Linked DNA regions of Homo sapiens. The protein of the gene in region 1 purifies or fractionates together with the protein of each later gene. This does not show direct contact. Each region holds a gene or a part of one and is shown in the gene's direction. Other genes may lie near its edges.

Region 1 (3,500 bases):
GCATTCCAGCCTGGGTGACAGAGTGACACCCTGTCACACACACACACATACACAAAATTAGCTGCACTTAGTGGCATGCATCTGTAATTCCAGCTACTCAGGAGGCTGAGGGAAGATCACTTGAGCCCCTGAGTCTGAGGCTGCAGTGAGCCACGATTGTGCCACTGCACTGCGGCATGGGTGACAGAGCAAGACCCTGTCCAAAACAAACAAAAAAGAATCTAGTATAGAAACACGAGAGGTTATTGGGACTGGAGAGGGAGAAATGGAGAGTGCCTACATAGTGGACATGGAGTGTTTGAAACTAGAGAGAGTTGGTGGTTGTACAACATTATGAATACCCCAAATACCACTGAATTATACACATTAAAGTGGTTAATTATATTTTATGTGAATTTCACTGCAGTGCTTTTTTTTTAAGCGTTATAACATTATTAAGGAAAGTTTCATAATTTCACATTTTATGAAACAATTTTATTACATGTATCATTTTATGTGTACATAATGTGCAGAATTAGGCTTGGTGTGGTGGCTCACGCCTGTAATCCCAGCCCAGCACTTTGGGAGGCCAAGGTGGGTGGATCACCTAAGGCAGGAGTTTGAGACCAGCCTGACCAACGTGGTAAAACCCCATCTCTACTAAAAATTCAAAAATTATCTGGGTGTGGTGGCGTGCACCTGTAATCTTAGCTACTTGGGAGGCTGAGGCACAAGAATCACTTGAACCAGGAGGCAGAGGTTGCAGTGAGCCGAGATTGTGCCACTGCACTCCAGCTTGGGTTAGAGAATGAGACTCTGTGTCAAAAAAAAAAAAAAAAGTGCAGAATTATAGCATAGTTACACTTTTGTGTTTTCTTTTTCTTTTTCTTTTTTGAGGCAGTATCTTGCTCTGTCACCCCAGCTGCAGTGCAGTGGTGCAGTCGTAGCTCACTGCAGCCTCAGCCTCTTGGCCTCAAGTGATCCTCCCGCTTCAGTCTCCAGACTAACTGGGACTACAGGCTCACACCATCATGCCCAGCTAATTTTAGAAGTTTTTGTAGAGATGGGGTCTCGCTATGTTGCCAGGGCTGGTCTGGAACTCCTGACTCAAGTGATCCTCCAGCTTCAGCCTCCTACAGTGCTGGGATTACTTACAGGCATTAGCCACTGTGCCTGGCCTACTTTTTTCCCTTGACATTTTACATAGTTTTGAATGTCTCTGTGGGAGGATGTCTGCGTGCTCTCCTCCCTTTTCTTGTATGTTTTCTTCTACTTCTTGTCACAGGCTCTTGTTCATTTGTTTTTTAAGAGACAGAGTTTTCCTCTGTCTTCCAGCCTTGAGTGCAGTGATGCAACCATAGCTCACTGCAGCCTCTAACTCCTGATCTCAAGCAGTCCTCCTGCCTTAGCCTCCTAAGTACCTGATGTCACAGGCTGTTTATGTATTTGTCCTCCTGTTCTTGTGTAAGGGAGCTAAAAGTCCAGTACATAGAAGTGCTAAGTGAATGAAGATATGTCAGGATTTGCTCCTTAGACCTCTCTGTTGACCTGTGAAACACTGTGCAGGTCCCTTAATCTCTTCTCAGTCTGGTCATCTCTTCTCTCTGCCCAGGAAGCAGGACCAGGGTGTCAGGGGTCTGGTAGTTTCAGGCCATTCTTATGTGTGGCTTTGTAGGGATTTTTGAGACAGGGTCTCGCTCTGTCACCCAGGCTGGAATACAGTGGCATGAACACAGCTCACTGTAGCCTCAACTTCCTGGGCTCCAGCAATCCTCCCACCTCAGCCTCCCAAGTAGCTGGGACCACAGGCGCACACTGCCACGCCCGGCTAATTTTTGTATTTTTGGTAGTGACAGGGTTTTACCATGTTGTCTAGTCTGGTCTCGAACTCCTGAGCTCAAGTGATCTGCCTGCCTTGGCCTCCCAAAGTGCCGGAACTACAGGTGCGAGCCACAGCGACCAGCCCTCAGGCCACTCTTATTATCATTGGCACTGCCTGCCCTCTCTCCATGCTCTTGAGCCACACTGAATCAGGAGTCATAGGTTTTCGTTCATCTGCATTGGCTGTGTCAGGTTCTCCAGCTCTAAGTGGGGACAGTAACACTTGACTTATGACAATTATGTCACTGAAATTCATGTAGTACAGTAGCCCATGTCTCTGATGGTTCTTTTTTGTTGTTCTTGTTTTGAGACAGGGTCTTGCTCTGTCACCAGGCTGGTGTGCAGTGGAGCAATCATAGCTTACTACAGCTGCAGCCTCAACCTGCTGGTCACAAGTGATCCTTCCGTGTCAGCCTCCCAAGCATCTGGGACTACAGGCAGGCACCACCATGCCTGGCTAATTTGTATTTTATTTTTTGCAGGGACAGGGTCTCCCTATGTTGCTCAGGCTGGTGTCGAGCTCCTTGGGCTCAAGCCGTCCTGCCTCAGCCTCCCAAAGTGCTGGGATTACAGGCATAAGCCACCATGCCCGGCCTGATCTCTCTTAATAAACTAACTAATAATAATTCCCAGCTTTCACAACAGCCCAGGCAGATTAGATATTATTATCCTCATTTTACTAACTAAAAATTTGAACCTCAAGGAGGTTGTGACTTGGCTAAGGCAATGTGGCTTCCACCCTGTTCCTCTTTACCTTTTACCAGGGTTTCTCAATAGTGGCACTATTTAAAAAAAAAAAAAAACAGTGGCGCTATTGGGCCAGGTCATTTGTTTTGTTGGGGGCAAGGGGGGCTGACCTGTGCAGTGCAGCATGTTGAGCAGCATCCCTGGACTCTACCCACTAGACGTCAGTGGCACTCTCCCCTAGTCAGAACAACCGGAAAACGTCTCCGGACACTGCCCCCGGCCTGTTGAGCACCACTGTCCTACTCCAAACCAGCTTTATAGCAGGAAGCTCCTTGGGTTAGTTTGTATAGTGCCAAGCACAGCAGCATACTTTTGGTGGTGAGCGCTTGTGCAGTCGATGGAGGTGTGTGGAACTGTGGCCCTGCTGGCTGGTGGCAGACACCAGTGCCCCTGTCTCTAGTGCAGAGTGGAGCTTGGGCTTTGTTTCTCAGGCCTGGCCTTTTCTCCTTCATTCTGTGCCCTCATTTTTCCAAATGCGCTTCTCTCTGGCCAGGTTTGTATGCAGTGAAAATCCGAGCTGAGGCCATGCAGGAAGCTTCAGAAGCTGTCCCCAGTGGGATGCTGTCTGTCCTCGGCCAGCCTCAGTCCAAGTTCAACTTCGCCTGTTTGGAAGCCCGGGAACACTGCAAGTCTTTAGGCATAGAGAACCCCGTATGTGAAGTGTCCAACTACCTCTTTCCAGATTGCAGGGTGATTTCAGGACACCAAGAGGTGGGTGTTGATGGGAACTGCCTTCATAGGCCAGTCCAGTACGGAGGGTTGGAACTGCTCCACACCCGTGAGGCCTAGCAGTCTGGCGGGTGCTGGGTCCAGCCCGGTCTTTAGGAAGTATTTTGGGGCCAGGGCAGTGAGGTAGACCGAGTGCTGCAAAGCAGGCAGGAGCAAGAATGCTG
Region 2 (3,500 bases), on another chromosome or scaffold:
TTTTCTTCTCCGGCCAGCCTCTCAGGCTTTCTGCATCGACGTGCCTTTGCGATTCACTGGGCCCCGTTCTTGTTTGTTTAGTGATTCCTGTAATAGGTTCTGCTAAAGACATTCATTTGTTTAGGGACAGGGCTGGGGGATGACAGCATGACTTGGTTTCTAGCATCCATCTGCTGTGGCCAGGAGTCCCTAATGGTCTTGTCTCCTGGCGTAGGTGCAAAGCTCCGGGGTCGGCGCCTGCCGCCTCTCGGCTTTTAGGGCCAGGCCATCTGGATTAGGCGGTTTCCCTCTTAAGCTCGGTAAACTCCACAGACTGTGACAGATCCCCTTTCCAGCTGTCACACCACCTGGCTGCATGCTGCCACCAGGGGAGGGTGGTCGAATTCGGATCTGGTCAGTAGATCAAGTGCCAGCATCCTGGCAGGGGTCTTCCGGCCAAGCCAGGCAGGGTCACTTTCTTTGCAGTTGGCACTTAAGAAAGGAAGAGAAGGCCAGGTGCAGCGGCTCACGCCTGTAATCCCAGCGCTTTGGGAGGCCAAGGCAGGTGGCTCACGAGGTCAGAAGATCAAGACCATCCTAGCCAACATGGTGAAACCCCATCTCTACGAAAAATACAAAAATTAGCTGGGCATGGTACTGCATGCCTGTAATCCCAGCTACTTGGGAGGCTGAGGCAGGAGAATCGCTTGAACCAGGGAGTCGGAGGTTGCAGTGAACTGAGATTGCGCCACTGCACTCTAGCCTGGTGACAGAGCGAGACTCCGTCTCAAAAAAAAAAAAAAGAGAGATGCATATCTGCTTCTTTGCATAAAGAACCTCTGGAAGGCCAGGCCTGGGGATCACACCTGGAATCCCAGCACTTCGGGAGGCTGAAGCAGGAGAATCACTTGAGCCCAGGAGTTCGAGACCAGCCTGGGCAACATGGCAAGACCCTGTCTCTACAAAAAATACAAAAATAAGCTGAGCATAGTGGTGCATGCCAGTAGTCCTAGCTACTTGGGAGGGTGAGGTGGGAGGATAGCTTGAGCCCAGGAGTTCGACATTGTAGTGCGAGCTATGATTGTGTCTCTATAATCCAGCCTCGGCAACATAGTGAGACCTCTGTCTCTACAAACAAACAAACAAAATTAGCCAGGCATGGTGGCACGTGCCTGTAGTCCCAGCTACTTGGGAGGCTAAGGCGGGAAAATCACTTGAGCCCAGGAGGTTAAGCCTGCAGTGATTGCACCACTAGACTCCAGCCTGGGCAACAAAGTGAGACTCTGCCTCTTTTTTGTTTCTGAGCCAGAGTCTTGCTCTGTTGCTCAGGCTGGAGTGCAATGGCGTGATCTCGGCTCACTGCAACCTCTGTCTCCTGAGTTCAAGCAATTCTCCTACTTTAGCCTCCTGAGTAGCTGGGATTACAGGCGCCTGCCACCATGCCCAGCTAATTTTTGCATTTTTAGTAGAGACGGGGTTTCACCATGTTGGCCAGGCTGGTCTCAAACTCCTGCCCACCGCGGCCTCCCAAAGTGCTGGGATTACAGGCGTGAGCCACTGCGCCTGGCCTAGACCCTGTCTCTTAAAACAAAAACAAAACAAACCTCTGGAAAGTTAATAAGAAATCAGTTAAAAGTAGTTTTCAGTTCAGAGGCAGATGGGGACTGGGGCAGCTGGTGATAGGTGTGGTAATGAAAGACTTTTTTTTTTTTTTTTTTTTTTTTCGAGACAGAGTCTTGCTCTGTCGCCCAGGCTGGAGTGCAGTGGTGCGATCTCAGCTCACTGCAACCTCCACCTCCCAGGTTCAAGCGATTCTCCTGCCTCAGCCTCCCGAGTAGCTGGGGTTATAGGCGTGCGCCACCACACCCAGATAATTTTTGTATTTTTAGTAGAGACAGGGTTTCACCATGTTGGCCAGGCTGGTCTTGAACTCCTGACCTCAAGTGGAGTCCACCTCAGCCTCCCAAAGTGCTGGGATTACAGGTGTGAGCCACTGCGCCCGGCATAAAAATCATTTAATAGCTTTTTCTTCTTTTTCACTGAATGTCCTTTTATCTTGCAGCTATGTGAATGCACTGCCTAGTCATAATAAACAAGAAAGAGAAAGCAGAGTGCCCCTTTCCTGGATAGCTGGATTGGCTATGGCCCTGGGCACACCTGGAGTTGTTGAGGGTGTCCGTTTCCATGGCGAGGCTATAGAACAGTGGGCGCCCTTCCAACAGGCTAGAGCCTCCATGTCTCAGTGAGGCCATCTTCTTGCTCCCTTGAAGCTTGGGCTGTCCTCTGATGCCATGTTGTCAGCCCAGACAGGCAGTGTGATCAGGGCTCCTGGCAAGGGTCTTTGAGACACAGCCACTGCCCCTGCTTGGTGGTCGTGACTTGGGACGCAGCCTGCCTGTGACTGGAGCTGGGGGTGACGGGTAAGATGAGTGGAGATGTTGGGCCAGTGGGGCCTGATTCCCAGACTGGACCTGCAAGGCAAGAGACAGGGTTTCTGGAGCTTGTTTTTGAGACAGAGTCTCGCTCTGTCACCCAGGCTGGAGTGTAGTGGTGCAATCTTGGCTCACTGCAGCCTCTACCTCCTGGGTTCAAGCAATTCTCCCACCTCAGCCTCCCGAGTAGCTGGGATTACAGGCGCCTGCCACCACGCCTGGCTGGTCTCAAACTTCTGACCTCACGTGATCCGCCTGCCTTGGCCTCCCAAAGTGCTGAGATTATGGGCGTGAGCTACAGCGCCCAGCCCCTGGAGCTTCTTAGTGAGCCATAGCAGTGGCTCCCAGGAGAGATCTCTGAACACCTGGCCTGGGGGCATGGAGCCTAGTGGGGTTAGGGTCAGAGGGGAGCAGCCCCTGTAGGGCGTGCAGGTTCCAGGGATGCACACAGGCCCATGTTCCTGCCCGACATGCCCTCTCAGGCTGATGTGAATGGTGATGGCTGCCATTGACTGGAGGGAGTTGGGATGGCCTTGTCCTCATGACCACACGCAGTTGTCCTGATGGACCTGCTGGGGAGGCCTAAGTGCCCCCATTCCCAGAGGGTAGGGAGCCGAGGCTCAGAGAAGCTGTCTCCTACTGAGACAAGCTGTCTCCTGCTGAGACAAGCTGTCTCCTACTGAGTCTCCTACTGAGAGGCAGGGCCGGGTCGGCCAACACCAGCGCCTGTCTCCTCCGGGTGCGCCACCCCCACCCATGGTATGCTGGATCTTATTTTTCAGGTGACGATGCCTGGGGAGCCTGTGGACGTGGCATGTGGCGTGGACCACATGGTGACCCTGGCCAAGTCATTCATCTAAACCTCCCTCACCTGCTTGGGCGGCCCCGTCCCGGGAACCACTGGCACTCCTTGGCAGAGGCCAGCGCGTGGCCAGCCCCCCGGGGTTCTTGGATGGTGGTGGCGGAGGACCCTGCGTGCAGTGTGACGCTCTGTCCTGAATCCCTTAGCGGGTACCTACCAGGAGGATCAGGGCAAGGTCCCTCTCCAGCTGCAGGTGAGGCCTGCGGAACTCAGCTTGGATGGCAGCC
Region 3 (4,104 bases), on another chromosome or scaffold:
TGATCAACATGCTCCTTCCTTGGAGCACAGATCTACTATGGCCAGCCTGGTCTCGAACTCCTGACCTCAGGTGATCCGCCCGTCTCAGCCTCCCAAAGTGCTATAATTACAGGCGTGAGCCACCGGGCCCGGCCCAGAGTTAATTTTTATTCATGAAACTCATATAACAGGTTTATTTATTTCAGTCGTTTTGTTGGTTAAAGAACCAAGATTTTTTATGACTACACTTTGTGTACACTTTTAGGTTCTCTCTTTTTTTTTTTTTTTTTTGAGACGAGTCTCATTCTGTCGCCCAGGCTGGAGTGCAGTGGCGCAATCTCGGCTCACTGCAACCTCCGCCTCCCGGGTTCACGCCATTCTCCTGCCTCAGCCTCCCGAGTAGCTAGCTGGGACTACAGGCGCCCACCACCACGCCCGGCTAATTTTTTTCTATCTTTTAATAGAGACGGGGTTTCACCGTGTTAGCCAGGATGCTCTCGATCTCCTGACCTCGTGATCCGCCCGCCTCGGCCTCCCAAAGTGCTGGGATTACAGGCGTGAGCCACCGCGCCCGGCCTTACACTTTTAGGTTCTTGAATAAGTACTGAGGGAGTTTTCCCTAAAAAAAAAAAAAAAAGTTTTGAGATAAAAGAATAAAAACTCTACTTCTTCTTTGCATAGGAGTCTTTAGTTTGTTTGCTGCTCTTGTTCCAAAACTTCTCATTACTCAACCTACTAAACCCACAGACACTTTTCAAGAAGTTATCTCTTTTCTACATCACCAATATATAGGGTGGCTTAGATCTGTATTTCCAAGTCTTACTGTCGTTCCAAGAATTAGTATCAACTATTAGAATCTCAAAAACTCAACTGCATACTGATTGCGCTGCCCAGTGTACCTCTGAATCCCACGGGGGAGGGGGTGTAGAACCGAGTTGTGCAGGAATGGGATATTCCACACTTCAGGGCAAACTTATTCGCAGGATCAGTGGCGGGCTTTGGAGGTGGGAAGCAGGAAGGAAGGGGAATGCAGATAAACTCTTCTTCTTCAGATCTCCGGGGTGAAATGAATGCACCTGACGCCCGCGTGGCATTAGAAGCTCCGCGAACTCAGTGAGGCCATGCTGGACAGAGGCTGGAACTCCGGGCCACCGGGACAACTCTGCCCGTAGCAAGCCTTGCGCGCTCCTGTGAGGGCGCGCGCGCGCGCATGTAGTCGTGTCTCGCGCAGGGTCCGGCCTGTCAGGCGGAAAATCTCGCGAGATCGGAGACGGGGGATGACGGTCTGGAGGAGGGGAGTGGTGTCGGGTAAAGGGGGGGAAGCTGGGCAGCGGCCGGGCTCTGTGGCTTCAGGGCTCGGGGAGAGAGAGGGAGGGTGGCAAAGAGACTGAGTCGGTGCCGCCGCCTGCCTGAGGAGAGAGGAGGGGTCCCGCTCGCCCTGCGCCCTTCGCGGGCCGAAAGCACTAGGCACTCGCGAACATCTGAGGCCTCCCGGCCCCGGGGGACCCCGCCCCGCCGTCCGCCGGCCGGCCCGCGGCCTCTCTTCCCTTTGTGAGCGCCTCCTTACCAGGGGTGGTGTTGGTGGCGGAGGGCTGCGCGTGGGCCCGCCCGCCGAGGGGCCGCGGCGGGGGACCGAGAGGGCCTCGGCTGTGTGAGGACTAGAGGCGGCCGAGGCCCGGGCCGGTTCCCCCGAGGCGGCGACGGAGACGGCTCCCGGCACTTCCCCGCGCCATCTTAACTGAGCCCAAGCGCTGAGGGCGCCTCCTCGACCCCGGTCGTCCCCTCGCCCCCCCCCCCACCCCCCGCCGCCGCCGCCCCTTGTTGCAGAGCTTGGGCTGGGCGGCTTGCTGGGGCTCGGGGGTGGGGGGCGGCGATCTGTCGCCGGGCCCCCTCCTCCTCCTCACTCCTCACCCTCCAGGGTAGCGGCTACCGGAGCGCTGCAGGGGGCTGCGCCTGCCTGCTCCGCCCCAGACCTGTCGGCGAAAGGGTAAGGGCACCTCTGCTTTGGGAAAGGGGGATATAGAGGGGGGCGGGGAAATTCGGCCCACTCGGGCCTGTGTGTGGAAGAAGGGATGTGGGAGTGGGGTGGGGGAGGGAGAAAAGGAGGGTCTGTGATTCTGTGGGTGGGGTGAAGAAGCTGGTGAGCTGGGCGCCCTCCGGTTTTAAGGGGCGAGAGCAATTCCATTCCTTTTTCCTGAGGGTCACCGGAAGGGGTGGTGGAAGGGGGATGTTTCGAGGAAGGTGTGGCCCTCACAGGGAGACTGGGTTGATGTGCACCCCGGTTTAAAGGCGCGAGGTCCCCTTCCCCTCTGGTGCCTTTGCTCCTCTTCTCCTTTGTAGTGTCTGTGTATTCTTGGGAAGGGAGACTGCTCTGGGTGGCTTGCTGGGTGGATTCCACCCCCTAGCACAGGAAATCTATACCCCTCTTCTGTAGGGGCGATGGAAGCGTTTCTCTCCCCGTACCCTTCCCCCTTCCCCATCCTCTAGTCTACTGCAATGCTGCAGAAGTCCAAGGCAGTTTCTTCATACACAGACCCATGTATACACAGAAGGGAGGGGGAGCAGGAGAGGGAAGTAATGGCGCTTCCCTTGAAAAGGTTACTCTTTTTCCTTTGGTTTTAAATCGACGACAGTATCGTTTTAATACTCTTCCCCTGAGATCTGTCCATGGGAAGTGTATCTGTTCTGGTGTTATTGTTGGGGGATATGGCCTCTCGAGAGGGACACCTCTCCTGTTAGAACAGTTTTGATGTCTCTCTTTTTGAGAGATGTCTGGATTGACATTTTTTGTGAGCAGGTTGGATTTTAGTTAGAATTCAAATAAAATAATTTTGTACCTCCTCATCCTCATTTCCCTTTTCTTTTTCTATGACTTTTGTAGTTCATGAAGAATTATTGGCCTGGCGCGGTGGCTCACGCCTGTAATCCCAGCACTTTGGGAGGCCAAGGCGGGCGGATCACGAAGTCAGGAGATCGAGACCATCCTGGCTAACACGGTGAAACCCCGTCTCTGCTAAAAATACAAAAAATTAGCTGGGCATGGTGGCACGCGCCTGTAGTCCCAGCTACTCGGGAGGCTGAGGGAGGAGAATCGCTTGAACCCGGGAGGCGGAGGTTGCAGTGAGGCGAGATGGTGCCACTGCACTCCAACCTGGGCGACAGAGCGAGACTCCGTTTCAAAAAAAAAAATTATTAACAATTATTACATACAGACAGCCTGTCTGATTCAGGGCATTTCTCCCTAAGCTGTGAATTTTTAGGGTTGATACTGTTGTGTATAATATTGAAATTGGATTTTTTTTAAAATGGTAAGGTTACAAACCTTTCTGCAGCTGTTTCTTTGTTCTTATTAATCTGCCTAATTATTCTATGATCTATTTTCTGTAGTCAGTCATTTTTCACTTCTTTTGCTACCTGTCATGTTTGTCTGAAAGCAGATCATCTTATCTGGTTTACAGTAGTACTTGTTGGTTTTGTTCTTAGTTGAGTAGAAATAAAAATTTAAACATTCTGGAAATGTGCTGCCAAGTGCTTTTTGTGACCAAAGAGTAGTTTTCAAGTCTCCATGTACTGATGATACATTTTTTTCAAGTGTTTAGTAAATACTGGTGATGTGATTTCAAAATATTCCACATATGACTATTAATAGAATTAATTTTTTCCCAAAGTGAAGAAGAAGACTAAAATGTGTACAGATAATGAGTTGTCTTTGGTGTATTTAGTGTTTTCAGCTCTACTTAGTGACTTATTTTTAAATACTTCAAATGCCATCTACATTTTATGTTGTCATTAAATGTTGTCCAATAGAGCTTTTTTGGTGTGTTTGTTGCATTTTGAAACCTGTTTTAAGATAGGGATTTAAAGGTGTTAGTAGTAGCGCTAGGCACTAACTTAGTTTCTGTCATTTTATATCATGATTTTGATGTAGGAGACATGGTATGTTAAATAAGTTTTATTTTTTTTTCTCAGAAGATGGAATTCTCTTTTCTTTATTCCCTTTTAATGGTCATCTCAATTCATTGAAATAACACTATTCATTTGAGTATTTATTTCATGGGACAAAGCTGCATGTTGTTGATATGTAGAGTTTTCTCCATTATGGCAAATTATGCCAGGAAGTCTGAT
Region 4 (3,500 bases), on another chromosome or scaffold:
TCTTGTTCTCTTGGCCAGGCTGGAGTGCTGTGGGAAAATCTGGGCTCACTGCAGCCTCAACCTCCGGGACTCAAGTGATCATCCTGCCTCAGCCACCCAGAGTAGCTGAGAATACAGGCGTGCGCCACCAGGCTCGGGTAATTTTTTGTATTTTTTTTTAGAGACAGGGTTTTGCCATGTTGCCTAGGCTGGTCTTGAACGCCTGGGCTCAAGTGATCTTCTCGTCTCAGCCTCTCAGAGTTCTGGGATTACAAGTGTAAGCAACCATGCCTGGCCTTGTGTATTTCTTTTTGGTTTTTTTTGTGATGGAGTCTTGCTCTGTCACCCAGGCTGGAGTGCAATGGTATGATCTCGGCTCACTGCAACCTCCACCTCCTGGGTTCAAGCGATTTTCCTACCTCAGCCTCCCGCATAGCTGGTATTACAGGGGCCCACCACTATGCCCATCTAATTTTTGTATTTTTTAGTAGAGACGGGGTTTCGCTGTGTTGGCCAGGCTGGTCTCGAACTCCTGACCTCAGGTGATCCGCCCGCCTTGGCCTCCCAAAGTGCTGGGGTTACAGGTGTGAGCCACTGTGCCTGGCCAAATAATTTTTTTTTTTTTTTAAGATAGAGTCTTGCTTTGTTGCCAGGCTGCGGTGCAGTGGTGTGATCTCTGCTCACTACAGTCTCCGCCTCCTGGGTTCAAGCCATTCTTCTGCCTCAGCCTCCTGAGTAGCTGGAATTACAGGCGGGCGCCACCACACCCAGCTAATTTTAGTATTTTTAGTGGAGATGGGGTTTCACCATGTTGGCCAGGACAGTCTTGATTTCCTGACCTTGTGGTCTGCCCGCCTTGGCCTCCCAAAGTGCTGGGATTACAGGCGTGAACCACTGCACCTGGCCTTTTTTTTTTTATTGAGACACAGTCTCACTCTGTCACCCAGACTGGAGTGCAGTGGCACAATCTCGGCTCACTGCAGCCTCCACCTCTGAGGCTCAAGTAAGTCTCATGCCTCAGGTGTGTGCCACCACACCCAATTAATTTTTTATATTTTTGCTATAGACAGGGTTTCACCATGTTAGCCAGGCTGGTCTCAAACTCCTGGCCTCAAGTTGATCTGCCCACCTCAGCCTTCCAAAGTGCTGGGATTACAGATGTGAGCCACCTTGCCCAGCCTAATTTCTAAATTTTTGTAGAGACGTGGTTTCACTGTGTTGCCTAGGCTGTGGTTGAACTCCTAGGCTCAAAGGATCCTCCTGCCTTGACTCCCCTAAGTGCTGGGATTACAGGCATAAGCCACCATACCAGGCCCTTTTTTTTTTTTCCCCTGGAGACAGAGTCTTGCTTTGTCACCCAGGCTAGAGTGCAGTGGTGTGATCTCGGCTCACTACAACTTCCGCCTCCCGGGTTCAAGCGATTCTCCTGCCTCAGCCTCCCAAGTAGCTGGGGTTACAGGTGCCTGCCACCACACCTGGGTAATTTTTGTATTTTTAGTCATGTTGGCCAGGCTGGTCTCGAACTTATGACCTCATGATCCGCACGCCTTGGCCTCCCAAAGTGCTGGGATTACAGGCATGAGCCACTGGGCCCAGCCCAACCTGTAATTCTTTAGGAAGATTTATATTCAAACAAGTCCTTTTTTTATTTAAAAGAAAAAAACACACACACACAGGGTCTTACTCTGTCACCCAGGCTGGAATGCACTGCCACAATCACGGCTCATTGCAACCTCTAGCTTCCAGGCTCAGGTGATCCTCCCACCTCAGCCTCCTGAATAGCTGGGACTACAGATGCATGCCACCACGACCAGCTAATAATTTGTATTTTTTGTAGAAATGGGGCTTTGCCATGTTGCCCAGGCCAGTCTTGAACTCCTGGGCTCAAGTGATCCTCCTGCCTCAGCCTCCCAAAGTGCTGGAATTACAGGCATGAACCACCACACCCAGCCCAAGTACATATTTTAACTAACAGCTTCACAGGAACTCTGTGGATTACTTAGAGCATGTGCTTTGGGGTTTCGAGTCCTGCCTCTGTGGCTAACTTTCTGTGCAGCCCTGGGCTAAGATATTTTACTTTTCTTTGAGACAGAGTCTCGCTCTGTTGCCAGCCTGGAGTGCAGTGGTGATCTTGGCTCACTGCAACCTCTGACTCCCAGGTTCAAGTGATTCTCCTGCCTCAGCCTCCCGAGTAGCTGGGATTACAGGCGTGAGCCACTACGCCCGGCTAATTTTTGTATTTTTAGTAGAGATGGGGTTTCACCGTGTAGGCCAGGATGGTCTCGATCTCCTGACCTCCTGATCCGCCCACCTCGGCCTCCCAAAGTACTGGGATTACAGGCATGAGCCACTGCGCCCAGCCACAATATTTCACTTTTCTAACGTCGTTTTTCTTTCTTTAGTTCTTTTTTTTTTTTTTTTAAGAGTCCTAGCCCAGGCTGGGCGCGGTGGCTCACACCTGTAATCCCAGCACTTTGGGAGGCCGAGACCATCCTGGCTAACCGGTGAAACCCCATCTCTACTGAAAAAATAAAAAAAAAATTAGCCAGGCATGGTGGTGGGTGCCTGTGTTCCTGGCTACTTGGGAGGCTGAGGCAGGAGAATGGCATGAACCCGGGAGGTGGAGCTTGCAGTGAGCCGAGATCGCGCCACTGTACTCCAGCCTGGGCGACAGAGTGAGACTCTGTCTCAAAAAAAAAAAAAAAAAGAGTCCTAGCTCAGTAGGTAGGACTATAGGCCCATCCCACCATGCCCAGCTAACTTTTTTTTTTGTAGCAATGCCCAGGCTGGTCTTGAACTCCTGGCCTCCCAAAGTGCTGGGGTTACAGGTGTGAGTTGCCATGCCTGGCCCTGAGCCTCAATTTCATTACTTGAAGTATGAAATAAATTAACACATTAAAGTGTTGCTAGGATTAAAATGAGGTCCTTATGTATTCAAAAATCGTACAGAGATTTTTGAGGCCCTTCTTATAGCAAAACTCCCATTTACATTTTTCTGGAGCCTGGAGAAATGTGTCCAGACTGAGTGAATAGGTGCTATTTGCTGTACTTACATTATCATTTATAAAATACTACTGGTGGTCATCCTGGAAAGATGATCCCAACTGCCTATATCCTGTTCATCATTAACTTGTGTGTCCCAAAAAATCTTTTGAAAAGTTGCTAAATAGTGAATATTTACTATTTTATGAGGGCCTGCCAGTTCCCTGCCAGTGGAATTGTTTCAAGTCAATGATTCATCTGTTCAGTCATTTGGAAAATACTCTTTTTTTTTTTTTTTTTTTTTTTTTTTGAGGTGGAGTCTTGCTCTATGGCCAGGCTGGAGTGCAGTGGTGTGATCTCGGCTCACTGCAAGCTCTGCCTCCCAGATTCAAGAGATTCTCCTGCCTCAGCCTCCCAAGTAGCTGGGACTACAGGCATGTGCCACAACGTCCAGCTCATTTTTTGTATTTTTAGTAGAGATGGGGTTTCACCAGGTTGGCCAGGATGGTCTCCAACTCCAGATCTTGTGATCTGCCCAC

Evidence for each region. Proteins that work in one complex are often made in the same cells at the same time.
Region 2: the proteins of MCAT (region 1) and RCC1L purify together in Homo sapiens (affinity purification with mass spectrometry; one large-scale study listed by BioGRID and IntAct). This does not show direct contact.
Region 3: the proteins of MCAT (region 1) and TAOK1 purify together in Homo sapiens (affinity purification with mass spectrometry; one large-scale study listed by BioGRID and IntAct). This does not show direct contact.
Region 4: the proteins of MCAT (region 1) and SHMT1 fractionate together in Homo sapiens (co-fractionation; one large-scale study listed by BioGRID). This does not show direct contact.

Annotation. Positions count from the first base shown.
Region 1 is NC_000022.11:43,136,899-43,140,398, reverse strand, and holds part of MCAT (malonyl-CoA-acyl carrier protein transacylase, mitochondrial isoform a precursor), read left to right. Parts: intron 1-3,100; coding exon 3,101-3,318; intron 3,319-3,500. UniProt on the Homo sapiens protein: Catalyzes the transfer of a malonyl moiety from malonyl-CoA to the free thiol group of the phosphopantetheine arm of the mitochondrial ACP protein (NDUFAB1). This suggests the existence of the biosynthesis of fatty acids in mitochondria.
Region 2 is NC_000007.14:75,042,803-75,046,302, reverse strand, and holds part of RCC1L (RCC1-like G exchanging factor-like protein), read left to right. Parts: intron 1-3,193; coding exon 3,194-3,271; 3' UTR 3,272-3,500. UniProt on the Homo sapiens protein: Guanine nucleotide exchange factor (GEF) for mitochondrial dynamin-related GTPase OPA1. Activates OPA1, by exchanging bound GDP for free GTP, and drives OPA1 and MFN1-dependent mitochondrial fusion. Plays an essential role in mitochondrial ribosome biogenesis.
Region 3 is NC_000017.11:29,389,059-29,393,162, forward strand, and holds the start of TAOK1 (serine/threonine-protein kinase TAO1), read left to right. Parts: upstream 1-1,304; 5' UTR 1,305-1,966; intron 1,967-4,104. UniProt on the Homo sapiens protein: Serine/threonine-protein kinase involved in various processes such as p38/MAPK14 stress-activated MAPK cascade, DNA damage response and regulation of cytoskeleton stability. Phosphorylates MAP2K3, MAP2K6 and MARK2.
Region 4 is NC_000017.11:18,357,051-18,360,550, reverse strand, and holds part of SHMT1 (serine hydroxymethyltransferase, cytosolic), read left to right. Parts: exon of another isoform or gene 1-137; intron 138-3,500. UniProt on the Homo sapiens protein: Interconversion of serine and glycine.